Regions from separate parts of the Homo sapiens genome. Here region 2 is linked to region 1. The links come from fine-mapping of genetic effects on plasma protein levels. A gene starts in region 1. The other region holds a variant in brackets. All regions are shown on one strand. Distances are between the middles of the regions.

Region 1 (5,392 bases):
TTTTCTTTCATTTAAAATTCATCTTGCGTGATGGAACAGAGACTATTTTTATTTGTGGAATTAAGGTTTTCATCATTATAATCAGTTTTCAACCTCTTTCTCCATTTCCATTCTCTTTCTCTAAAACACTTTAAGAAGACCAAGTAGCTAACCTTTTCTTTCAAGGAATTAAAATACTCTAAAGTTCATTTGAGGCCAACTGTGAGCTACTGGAGACAAGAGATCATGTCTTATTTACTTTCATTTTTCCATGTCTTATTTACTGGATGCATGGCAGCTGCTCAACATATTTGCTAAATGCATATAGCAGCCAAATAAAGTTTTTGTGATAACAGAATTGCATGCTGTTGGCTGGAGTAGTTCAGTGTTCAAAAGATTGTGTTTGTATGAGATCATTTCAATATATACTAGAATGGATCAGGTGTGGGACTGTAATACACAATTAGCCCCATCACTATGATATGTTTTGATTTATGAAACTTCAGCTCTCAGTCACACAATTTCATGTTTACAAGGTAAATTTGCTAGTTAATTACTAGCTTTAAATGGAATTATCTAGCTGAGTTTTGTAACCATAGAAATTTAGAGATAGTTCTTTTTGAAATGAAGAAAATGTATTTTTTTCAAAGAAATTTCCTCTTTCCATTTCAACTTTATAATGATAGCAATAAGTTGATAATAAAATTTCGCCATGCATTGTGGAGACTATCTAAGCTTTTAACTTTGAATGAGTGGAATAAGATCTAGAAATTGTCTTGGGACTATTTTAAATAACTTTTTAGTAGAAATATCATACTTCACTTACTGCTTTTTTTTTTTTTTTTTAAATGGAGTCTCACTCCGTCACCCAGGCTGGAGTGTAGTGGCACAATCTTGGCTTACTGCAACCTCCGCCTCCCAGGTTCAAGCAATTCTCCTGCCTCAGCCTCCCAAGTAGCTGGGATTACAGGTGCCCACCACCACGCCTGGCTAATTTTTGTATTTTTAGTAGAGACAGGGTTTAGCCATGTTGGCTAGGCTGGTCTCAAGCTCCTCACCTCAGGTCATCCTCCTGCCTCAACCTCCCAAAGTGCTGGGATTACAGGCGTGAGCCACCGCACCCGGCTATCACTTACCGCTTTTGGATTGCAAGACTGACATCTGAGCAACTATGGCTTTTGACTCAATAGGACTAAACCACTGGATTAAATCAAGTGAGTCTATGCGTGGACTCTCAGTCCATATCCCTTCAGTGTTGTTTGGAGTTCGACAATCAATAACCTTTTCTGGGACACACTCTAAAGACTGACTTACCGGCACTGCAAAACTCATTTCCAGGAGGCATAGGATCAGTATCAGGTCCTTCATTTTGAAAAGTGGAATCTAAAACATAATTAAGTTGGAGAATTAAATCAGATGAATTTTTATTCAGAATGGTTAAAAGACAATTTTTGAAAATGAGCCTGAGTCTCTGCTCTTACAAAAACCACCGGGATAAAGGTTAGAAGAACAAAAACAAAAACTAAATGTTACTAAACAACCGATTTGTATGTAGTAGTTTCTGAAATAAATTAACAAGCAATTAAAAAATATCTAAGCACGTTTTAAATGGATCTACAGCCTAAATAAGTATGTAGGAACAACCTCCATCGATATTCTTTGTGATATATTTCATTTCATAAAGTGAATTATGAGTTTAAAAATCCTTCCCACTAAGTAAAATATTGGTCTATAAGGTATTATTCACAGAAGTTTATACTTTGCTTACCCTTTGGGACACATTTTGAAATGCATGTGAAATGTAATGCAACTAAGTCATTTTATAACAAACCTTTATTTGCAGGAATAGAGGGTACATCATTGCATGTTTAGGTAATCTACGTAACCATGACAAAATTTTTCTTTTCAAATGAGAGTAAATTGGCTATCTTAATTTTCTTTGATGTTAGTGGAAAATATGTCTCAAATTTAGCTTTCCTCTTCCTAAAATGAATTATCTTTTAAAATTTATTCTATAAATTCAAAAAGCTCTTTATTCTTACATGAATAGAGATCTGAATAGCCTAGAAATTTACTCATCTTCTAATATTAAAAAGAATTAGGCACTATAATCAAAAACATTAAAAAAAACACAATCTATAAATAAAAGTCTTTTTTTTTTTCTTAGTTGAATGGGTGTTAGGCATGTCATCTCTGGGACATGCTAATGGATTACAACAAGCAATAATTCAGCTACTGGTGACAAATGAAGATAAATCCTCTTTATAAAAGCTGTCAGGAGATAGGAAAAAAAGAATTTACAGGAAACACATGGAAATCATAAAATCCCATTTTACCTTAGATGCTGACATGCACTGTGCTCTCAGGGCCTGATGATGCCAACCAAGATAGTTCTAAGAAAAGAAGATTAAAATTTTTTTCAGGACTGTGCGTGGGACTTGCTCTGTACTTCTCATTCAGGGAAGATTAGAAACCTTTATTTAAAGTGCCAATCCACCAATCAAAGTGAAGCAAAATGGCGAGGGGTGGCGGGGGGGAGTTGGGGCGGGAATCTCTGCTCCTGCAATTAGTCCACACCCTTTTATTGCGTGCAGGGACATTGGCCCAGTAGGGTCTCATTATTTTTAATTGTACTGCAGCCCCTGTACTTATTCAGAGAACTTGATAGCAGGGAAGGCAGTAAAGGAATAATGGACATAGGCTCTGAAGACAATTATTTTGGTGAGCTGGGGAAAATATATGTAAAATAGGTGCAAAACAAAACCTGTTTTGTGCAGGTTTTATCTGCAGATAAAGCTAGTGACCCAATGCTAGCATTCTTCAGGTTTTCACCCTCCTGTTTGTTGTAGTAAAAGAGACTACTGTCCTTCCCCCCAGCACACACAGAGTTTAAAAGAAAACACTAAAATGTTAGATGGAAAATTAATGTGTGTGATTTCTTCCTTGAATTTCCTAGATATTTTCATATCTGGAGATAATTGATTAGAGATAGCCAAGCTTTTGTAAGAAACTACAGTTGGACCCTTTGCAAGAATCAGGTTTACTTCAGGTAAACGTTTGGTGCATTTTAAAAAAAATCTGTGGGGACGGGGACGTAAATCAGAACATTCTCTATGAACCAAATCAATGGGCACAAGTGTCAGTTCACTCTTCAGATAGACACATTCCCAGGCATTAGTATCAAGCCAGGTTAATAAGACATATTTCGATCACTTAAAAGGTTAACGTCAACACAGATTGGTTTTTCTCCGTGAACAGATAATATCTTGGATGTGGATTGAATATTAGCTGCTTTTGTTACTTCTCTGCCCATCCTTGTCTTTCCAAAGTTGTGATTTCAGATATGGTAGGGATAAGCATTTAAGATTAGTTCTGAAGAAGGGATGAGTCAGTACACTCTTTAGGGAAGTAGGGATCTTGTCAATTACAGGGAACATTGAGGAAGCTGGTATTTTGAGAGAAAGCTGTATCCATACCCAAATGTAGGCCTAACAGCTTCAAATAATGTTATCTTAGAAGCTGCTCCTGAAAACCTCTGTGTTCCACTGATACCAGAATTATCTTTAGGATGCAAAGAAATGAAGAATGTGAATGTGTTTTGCAAACAGCAAAATGTTATTGAAATGAAAAGTATTATTTTTCATGCTGTCTCTGGTGCTTGATGCAGTCCCTTAATCTCTTTTGAGCCCCAGTTCCTTCTTCTGTTATGTAAGGATAATAATTAATGACCACAAGCTAGTCTTTTTTTTTTTTGAGACGGAGTCTCGCTGTGTTGCCCAGGCTGGAGTGCAGTGGTGTGATCTCAGCTCACTACAACCTCCGCCTCCTGGGTTCAGGCGACTCTACTGCCTCAGCCTCCTGAGCAGCTACGATTACAGGCCTGCGCCACCATGCCCGGCTAACTTTTTTTGTATTTTTAGTAGAGACAGGGTTTCCCCATGTTGGCCAGGTTGGTCTGAAACTACCGACCTCAGGTGATCCTCCTGTGTTGGCATCCCAAAGTGCTGGGATTACAGGCGTGAGCCACCACGCCCAGCCTGAGCTTGTCTTAAAGATTGGTGAGATGGTGAAGATGCAGCAGCTGCCATTTATTGGGTGCTGAATGAATGAGTTGATTGTCCTTTTGGTAGGAGAAACTACATGAAATATGAGACCACAAGAACTGTGTGTGTGTGTGTGTGTGTGTGTGTGTGTGTGTGTGTGCTGGAGGAGGAGGAGTGCTGGCAGCTAGGTTCATAAGCTCCAAGGAGGTAGAGGAGGGACCTGATGGAGGACATTTTCTCTGTGGAAGTTGATGCTGAATCCATAGGAACGAGCTTCCTAGTTGGCTAAAAAACTGGCAAATAGTGTGTATGTGTGTGTCTTGTAAAGTTTATAAGCGTGATCATGACACACTAATAATGATGTTTTGGTAGGATTCTTATGTTCTGCTTTGCTTTTGAGCCAAATATCCAATATATCATACACACTGTTGCTTCTTCCTTTTTTAAATGTCACACTCCATTCTGGCTTACTGACTTCCAGATGTTTATCTGGTAGTTTATTTCTCCTCCAATATCCTGCACACCAACACTAGACTTATCTTCCTAAAATACTGGTTTTGGCATTTCACTGCCCCACTCAAAAACTATGTAAGGATCTCTAAGGCTGTCATAAAGTTCACCCTCTGTAACTAGACAGTCAATTGAACATTTCAGTTCCTCTTTCCAATCTTGTTTCCCACTTTGCATGAGACAGTGTGTATTCATATTGTAATAATGATTGTAATCAATTGGAGTTGGTTTCATTTTTTCAGCTAATAAACAGTTTTTTGTCAGATTTTATGGGATGTATGTTACTGGGAAAGTTGGTAAATGTAATACTAATATATCCTACAAAAAATTTTCTATTACAATGAAATCTGGAAATTAGTATGAATGTATGAATGAGTTTCTGACAGTGATTATAGATATAAGGAAATTACCATAGCTGATGGAAACCATGTTATGTTGGCCAAGACCATACCTGTATGAAGAAGAATCAGAGAGTCAGTTATAAGAAAATACTTGTGTCTGGAGTACAGCAAAATAAAAAAAAATCTCAAAGTGACAAAAGATGTGAGACACATGAAGAGACATAGGCCATAGAAAAAGTTACAATGAAAAATTTAGAGCAACAAGATCTGGCAGAATATGTTAGTAAAGTGGTTGAGAGCACAGCTGTTTAAATCCCCTCTGTAATACTCACTGGTCATATGACATTGAATGAGCCACTATATAATCTTCATGTAGTTTTTTTTTTTAAAGTTTTTTGAGACGGAGTCTCACTCTGTCATCCAGGCTGGAATGCAGTGGCACGATCTTGGCTCACTGCAACCTCCGCTTCCCAGGTTCCTGCAATTCTCATGCCTCAGCCTCCTGAGTAGCTGGGACTA
Region 2 (5,392 bases), 79 kb after region 1:
AATGACATAGAACATCAGAATTCATTAAAGTGTTTTATGAACTATAGGACACATCTCTTAGCCCTTTAGTTCCAGGCATTCCTTAATCTTTCTTATTAGCTTTAGTTGTAAGTTTCTTTGGGTTATGGACCCTTTTGAGAAGCTGATTGAATGCACATGTCATCTCCTCAGAAAAATGCATATATGCTTATGAATGTAATGATTATGAAATAACTTCAGGGATTTCATGGATCTCCTGAGAGCCCAACTATAAAGAAACAGGTTAAAAATCTCTGGGTTAGAGGAGTCTTAGTGGAATTCCTTAGTGATTTGTGTCATCCCTGTGCTTTCTAGGATTTCTCAAGGCAAGAAACATACCCTCTCTCCAACTCCATCACACTCAATGGATATAGGAAGATCTAGGATTACCCAGACCTGAGGCACTCTTTATGAATCTCAGTCTAAGAGCATCTTTTTGACAATGAAAGGATAAAACAGACTGGAAATTTTCTATATTTCCTTACACCACTTGGTAACTCACAACATTAAAAGGATTCTGCGCACAAGATTATCATTAATTATAGTAATAGCTTGATTGAACAAATTAAGTACCTTGATAATTGTAAACGACATTCAGCATTTCTTGATGCATGGCAATCCCTGATACCTACTAAACAGAAGCCTCCACTGTACTGGACAAGGTATTGTACAAGGTGCTCGGGTACAAAAGTGAGTAAGAGGAAGCCCTTATTTATGTTCTTGTGGAAAATGCAGCAAGTCTCATATCACTATATAATGTGGTAGAGGCAAAATGGATGTATGCACAAGAGGCTAGAAAAGATGCATTTTGATCTTCTTTTTCTGCATTCGTTCATGTTATTTCCTCTGCCTGGAGTCCTCTTTTTCATCCTTGACTGTCAATGTTTTACTCACCCTTAAAGATCCTTCTTTATGCTACCACCTTCATGAAGCCTTTCTTTTTGTTCCTCTCATTTGGAGTTAGACTTTTCTTTCTCTGAGATGCTTTTGGAATTCATGACTTTGTTATTTATTTTATTCTACCTCACCTGATGCCATTGTTATTTGATTACTGTTTTGAGATATTAAATTTCAAGGAAGATTATATGTTTTGATATTTTCTTTAGCTCTCAGCTTGTATGTGATAGAACAATAAATATGGGTTGAATTGAATTGACTTGTTTGCCTTTATAAATTTACAAAAGTATTTAAAATTGTCAACCAGTCCCCAGAGGAAACCGGACTTACGCTTGGAGGCCAGAAGTAGAGCAACTTCTCTATGGAGTAGTTTAGTAGGTGCCCGAAAAACAGCCACTGAATTAAACATATCTGAAATTCTACTAAATAGATCAAACTATATAGGTTTTTACTAATCTTTTAAAGTTTTGCCAGAGGGGGTATCAGGAAACTATGTTCAGACTTCTTGGCAGATTGAATTGACCTTTGTCATAAGTGATAAAGTTCAGTGTACAATGTCATTACAAATGTGGCTATATTATACCGAATTTACTCATGAAATAGGGTTAAGCTTGCAAGAGTGTGGCAACTTTGTATTCTGTCCGTGTAGACATCTTTCTTTCTTTCTCTTTTTTTGAGACAATGTCTCCTTCTGTCTTCCAGGGTGGAGTGCAGTGTCGCTATCCTGGCTCTCCTGGCTCACTGCAGCCTGGACTTCCCCAGCTCAGGTGATTCTCCCACCTCAGCCTCCCAAGTAGCTGGACTACAGGTGCGCACCACCACATCTGGCTAATTTTCTGTAGAGACGGGTTTCATGTTGTTGCCCAGGCTGGTCTTGAACTTCTGGGTTTAAGCAATCCTCCCGCCTCAGCCTCCCAAAGTGTTGGGATTACAGGCATGAGCCACTGCACCTGGCCTATGTAGAAATATTTCAACTTAACAATAGAATTACACACTTATGGAATTAAAAAAAAAAAGCTTGGGTGTGATATTTAAAATAGGAAAGAACACCCTGCAAATGGGCAACAGATGAGGATGCTGAAGGGAAGGTAAGAGATACAGTACTAGTGTGAGGAATTAATTAATGATTTCAGTGTTTGGACGACAATATAACGCTTTAGGTAAGGGTAAGGAAGGTGCTGGGAATTTATGTTCTTTGAGTTGATACTGTCAATTGGGCAGTTACTTTCAGTTTTGTAGACACAATCGAGAAAATGTGTAGTTTCAAAGTCAAATGGAAGGTCAGTATGTATTTTGTGGTGTCATAAGAAGTTTCTGTGATTTCAAAGTTGGATGCCGAGTCAATGTATAGTTTGGTGCCATCATAGGGAGGACCCTTTGTTTCAAAGTTGCTGTTGTATATGACAGCTTCTGGGATGTTGTAGGATAATGTGGCTTGATTTATGATTGTAGCAGATGATAGCATGGGAGTTGTAGTTAAAACTGAAGTTGCAGATGGGTGGTAGAAGTTGCTTTAGAAGTAGTGATAGCTGGGGTAGTTATACTGGTTTGGGTTTGAGAGTGAGAGCTTGAAAATAAAAATATTGAATCTAGATGTGGGTTTGTATAGAGGGATATAAAAGGAAAAATTTCACTTTTATTAGATGAATTTGTCCAGGTCTTTTGTTGATTTGTGGATTTGGATAAAATTTGATATGAGCAGACTTTTTT[TA/A]AAGGTGACTTTGGGTAAGATTGGGATTTATTTTTAAAAAAATGAATAGCAGATTTTGGGGAATATTTTGATAGAGGAGATTTTGATTGGCTACAGGTTTCATATGATGTTCTGGAGAGCAGGCTCCTGACTGAACTGCTGTTTTAAGAGGAGCTTTGGACAGGACACTTCCTTGCTTTCCAGCTGTACTTAGATGGTGATACAAAAAGTCAATCCCTGATGAAATAACTGCTTTGGAATCATTTTAGATGGGCTTGTTACAGGTAGTTAGGCATAAGTAGGGCAGAAAAGGGCTCTCCCCCACCCACAAGGAATGTTGGGTGACGGTTTGGCAATGATAACATTGCATCTCTAAAGGTTATAAATTGGTAGCCAGTGCCAGGGAGAGGTCATTTCCTGATGGTCCACACCTGTTGCATTAAAGTGTTAACTGAATGTAGATGCCAGGGAGAAGCAACTTCCTGGGCATGCACATTAACAGACAAAATGGCAGAGTATGACCTTCTGGGGGCACACTACCAGAAAAGGGAAGAAAACCTCAGATGGTCATGGGTACAACTTCCTAAACACACCGTACATGCTCACCTCCCAAGGGTAAGGAGGGCACTGTACATGCAGGCAGCTCACCCTAAGGAAAGAATCATGAGAAAGGGTCCAGCCTAAAAAGTCCTAGGATCAAGGTAAAACACTGGACTTGACCTTCAGGTGTTCATTTGGGTCTCTTTCAAGTGAACTTTCCTTTCTTTCCTGTTATAAAACCTTTTCAAATAAACTTCCACTCCTGCTGTGAAACTTTCATCGGTCTCTTTTTCTGTCTTATGCCTCTCAGTCGAATTATTTCTTCTGAGGAGGCAAGAATTGAGTTGTGGCAGACCTGTACGGATTCACTGCCAGTAACCTGGATAACTTCCACCAGTAACAAGCTGGCTTTTGGCTTTTAAAAATTTTTTTGTCTCCCAGGCTGGAGTGCAGTGGCATGATCATAGCTCACTGCAGCCTCAAACTCCTTAGCTAAAGCATTACTCCCACCTGAGCCTCCCAAGAAGCTGGGACTACAAACATGCACCACCATGCCTGGCTAATTAAAAAATTTTTTTTTGTGGTGATGAAGGTCTCACTATGTCACCTAAAACTCCTGGCCTCAAGTGATCTTCCTTCATCAGCCTCCTAAAGCATTAGAATTATAGGCGTGAGCCACTGCATTGGGCTGGCTCTTTGCTTATTTGTTATTCTTGAGTGATTTTGTGTAGATCCAGAATGTAACTAAACAGCTGTTTTTGGACCAGCTTTTGAAGGGGAAGCATTCTGCTAAGTTAAATATGAGTTTGTGCTATTTCTGGACGTGTTTTGGATGGTGCAGCTCTTTGTATATCGGCTTGTTTCAGTGAGTTTCTTTGCAGGGGCTGGTTGCTGAATAGCTTTTTGGACAAAAGAATTATTTGCAGATCACCTTGTCTTAAAATAATTTGTGTGGAGCAGTTCCTCCTTATCCTTGGTTTTGCTTTCCATGGTTCACTCATCCATGGTCAACCATGGTCTGAAAATACTAAATAAAAAAATCCAGAAACAGACAAATCATAAGCTTTAAATTGAATGCTACTCTGAGTAGCCTGATGAAATCTTGCACCGTCCAGCTTTGCCCGGCAGGAGATGTGAATCATCCCTTTGTCTGGCATATCCACTCTGTATACGCTACTTCCCCTATATAATGTAATTGTATAATATAGAAAAAAAGATAGTGCATATAGGGTTTGATAGTATCTGTGGTTTCAGGCATCCACTGGTGGTCTTGGAATGTATCTTCTGAAGACAAGCAGGGATGACTGTATAGCCCTATCCTGCCCAAACAGCTGATTATGGATGAGCTTTGGGCAAGGGAGCTTTTTCCTGTTAAGGTGATTTCAGATGACTTTGTGTGGAGTAAAATCTTGAATAATAGCTGTTTTTGGATGAGTTTTGGATGGGGCGGTTCTTTTTTGATTAGCTCATCTCCAGTGACTTCGTATAGAGCCATATCTTGGATGAATAACTGTTTCTGAATGAATTTAATATGAAGCTATTCTTTGCTGATCAGCTGATTTTGGAAGAAGCTGAATTTGATTAGGGTTATGTTGAGATGACATTGTTCTGCAAACAGGCAAATCAGACTGTGCTCTTTGTCTGTCCTGGCCTTTGTTTGTTGAATATTACTGAATAGATAAGAGAGATGATGGATAAGCATCAAAACCCATCACTGAATCTTAGGAGAGAATCAAGCAGATAAGCTGATGGTAGTGTTTTCATTTGACTCTCATTTTACTGCGAGGGCTAAACTAGCTCTCATTTGTCTCTATAATTTAATTGTATGATTTTCTTGATTGTAGACCCTTGGCTTAAGGACTAAGATACTCCAAACAGCTCCCTAATTTTGTTTAAAAATCACCAGATGTCAAGGAGGTGCTTAAGCGTCAATTGTTGGCTTCTTAATTGGCTGTCCAGTCTAGGTAGATTATGTTAATAAGTTTGAGAACTTGTAGATGTAAGGTGGGGAGAAATTGCTTGTCTTGGGGCTTGCCTTAGTGGTTAGCTTCACAGTTTGTCCCCTTATCCTAAAGTCCAATTGCATTCTATACCTCTAACTAATTAATTACTCAAATAAATATTTATTCAATATTTACTATTTTCCAGACAATGTGCTAGACATTGGGGATTGAACTAGTAGGTTGTCAATTTGCTGTCTCTTATATAAAATGAGAAGGCCTAAGAATCAGTCCCGAGGAAGTCCAC

Alleles and levels. Alleles are on the strand shown, and positions count from the first base shown. The strength of an association depends on the size of the effect and on how common the allele is.
For the plasma level of the protein whose gene starts at base 2,433 in region 1, allele A in region 2 goes with a higher level than allele TA (weak association).

What was found. PIP is the posterior inclusion probability: the model's chance that the variant is causal. Protein levels are from antibody-based Olink assays in UK Biobank. Linkage for the fine-mapping came from a reference panel and not from the study's own genotypes, which makes the PIPs less certain.
Region 2: its variant is fine-mapped to the plasma level of the AMBN protein (UK Biobank, PIP 0.98).

Annotation. Positions count from the first base shown.
Region 1 is chr4:70,589,297-70,594,688 of GRCh38, reverse strand. AMBN (ameloblastin) reads right to left here and starts at 2,433. Exons shown (of 13, transcript NM_016519.6): 1 at 2,316-2,433; 2 at 1,294-1,362. The coding sequence starts at 2,330.
Region 2 is chr4:70,510,448-70,515,839 of GRCh38, reverse strand. No RefSeq gene overlaps it. Among named protein-coding and RNA genes, the nearest start is that of AMTN, 5.4 kb to the left of the region's middle. The variant TA/A (reference allele first, on the strand shown) is at 2,626.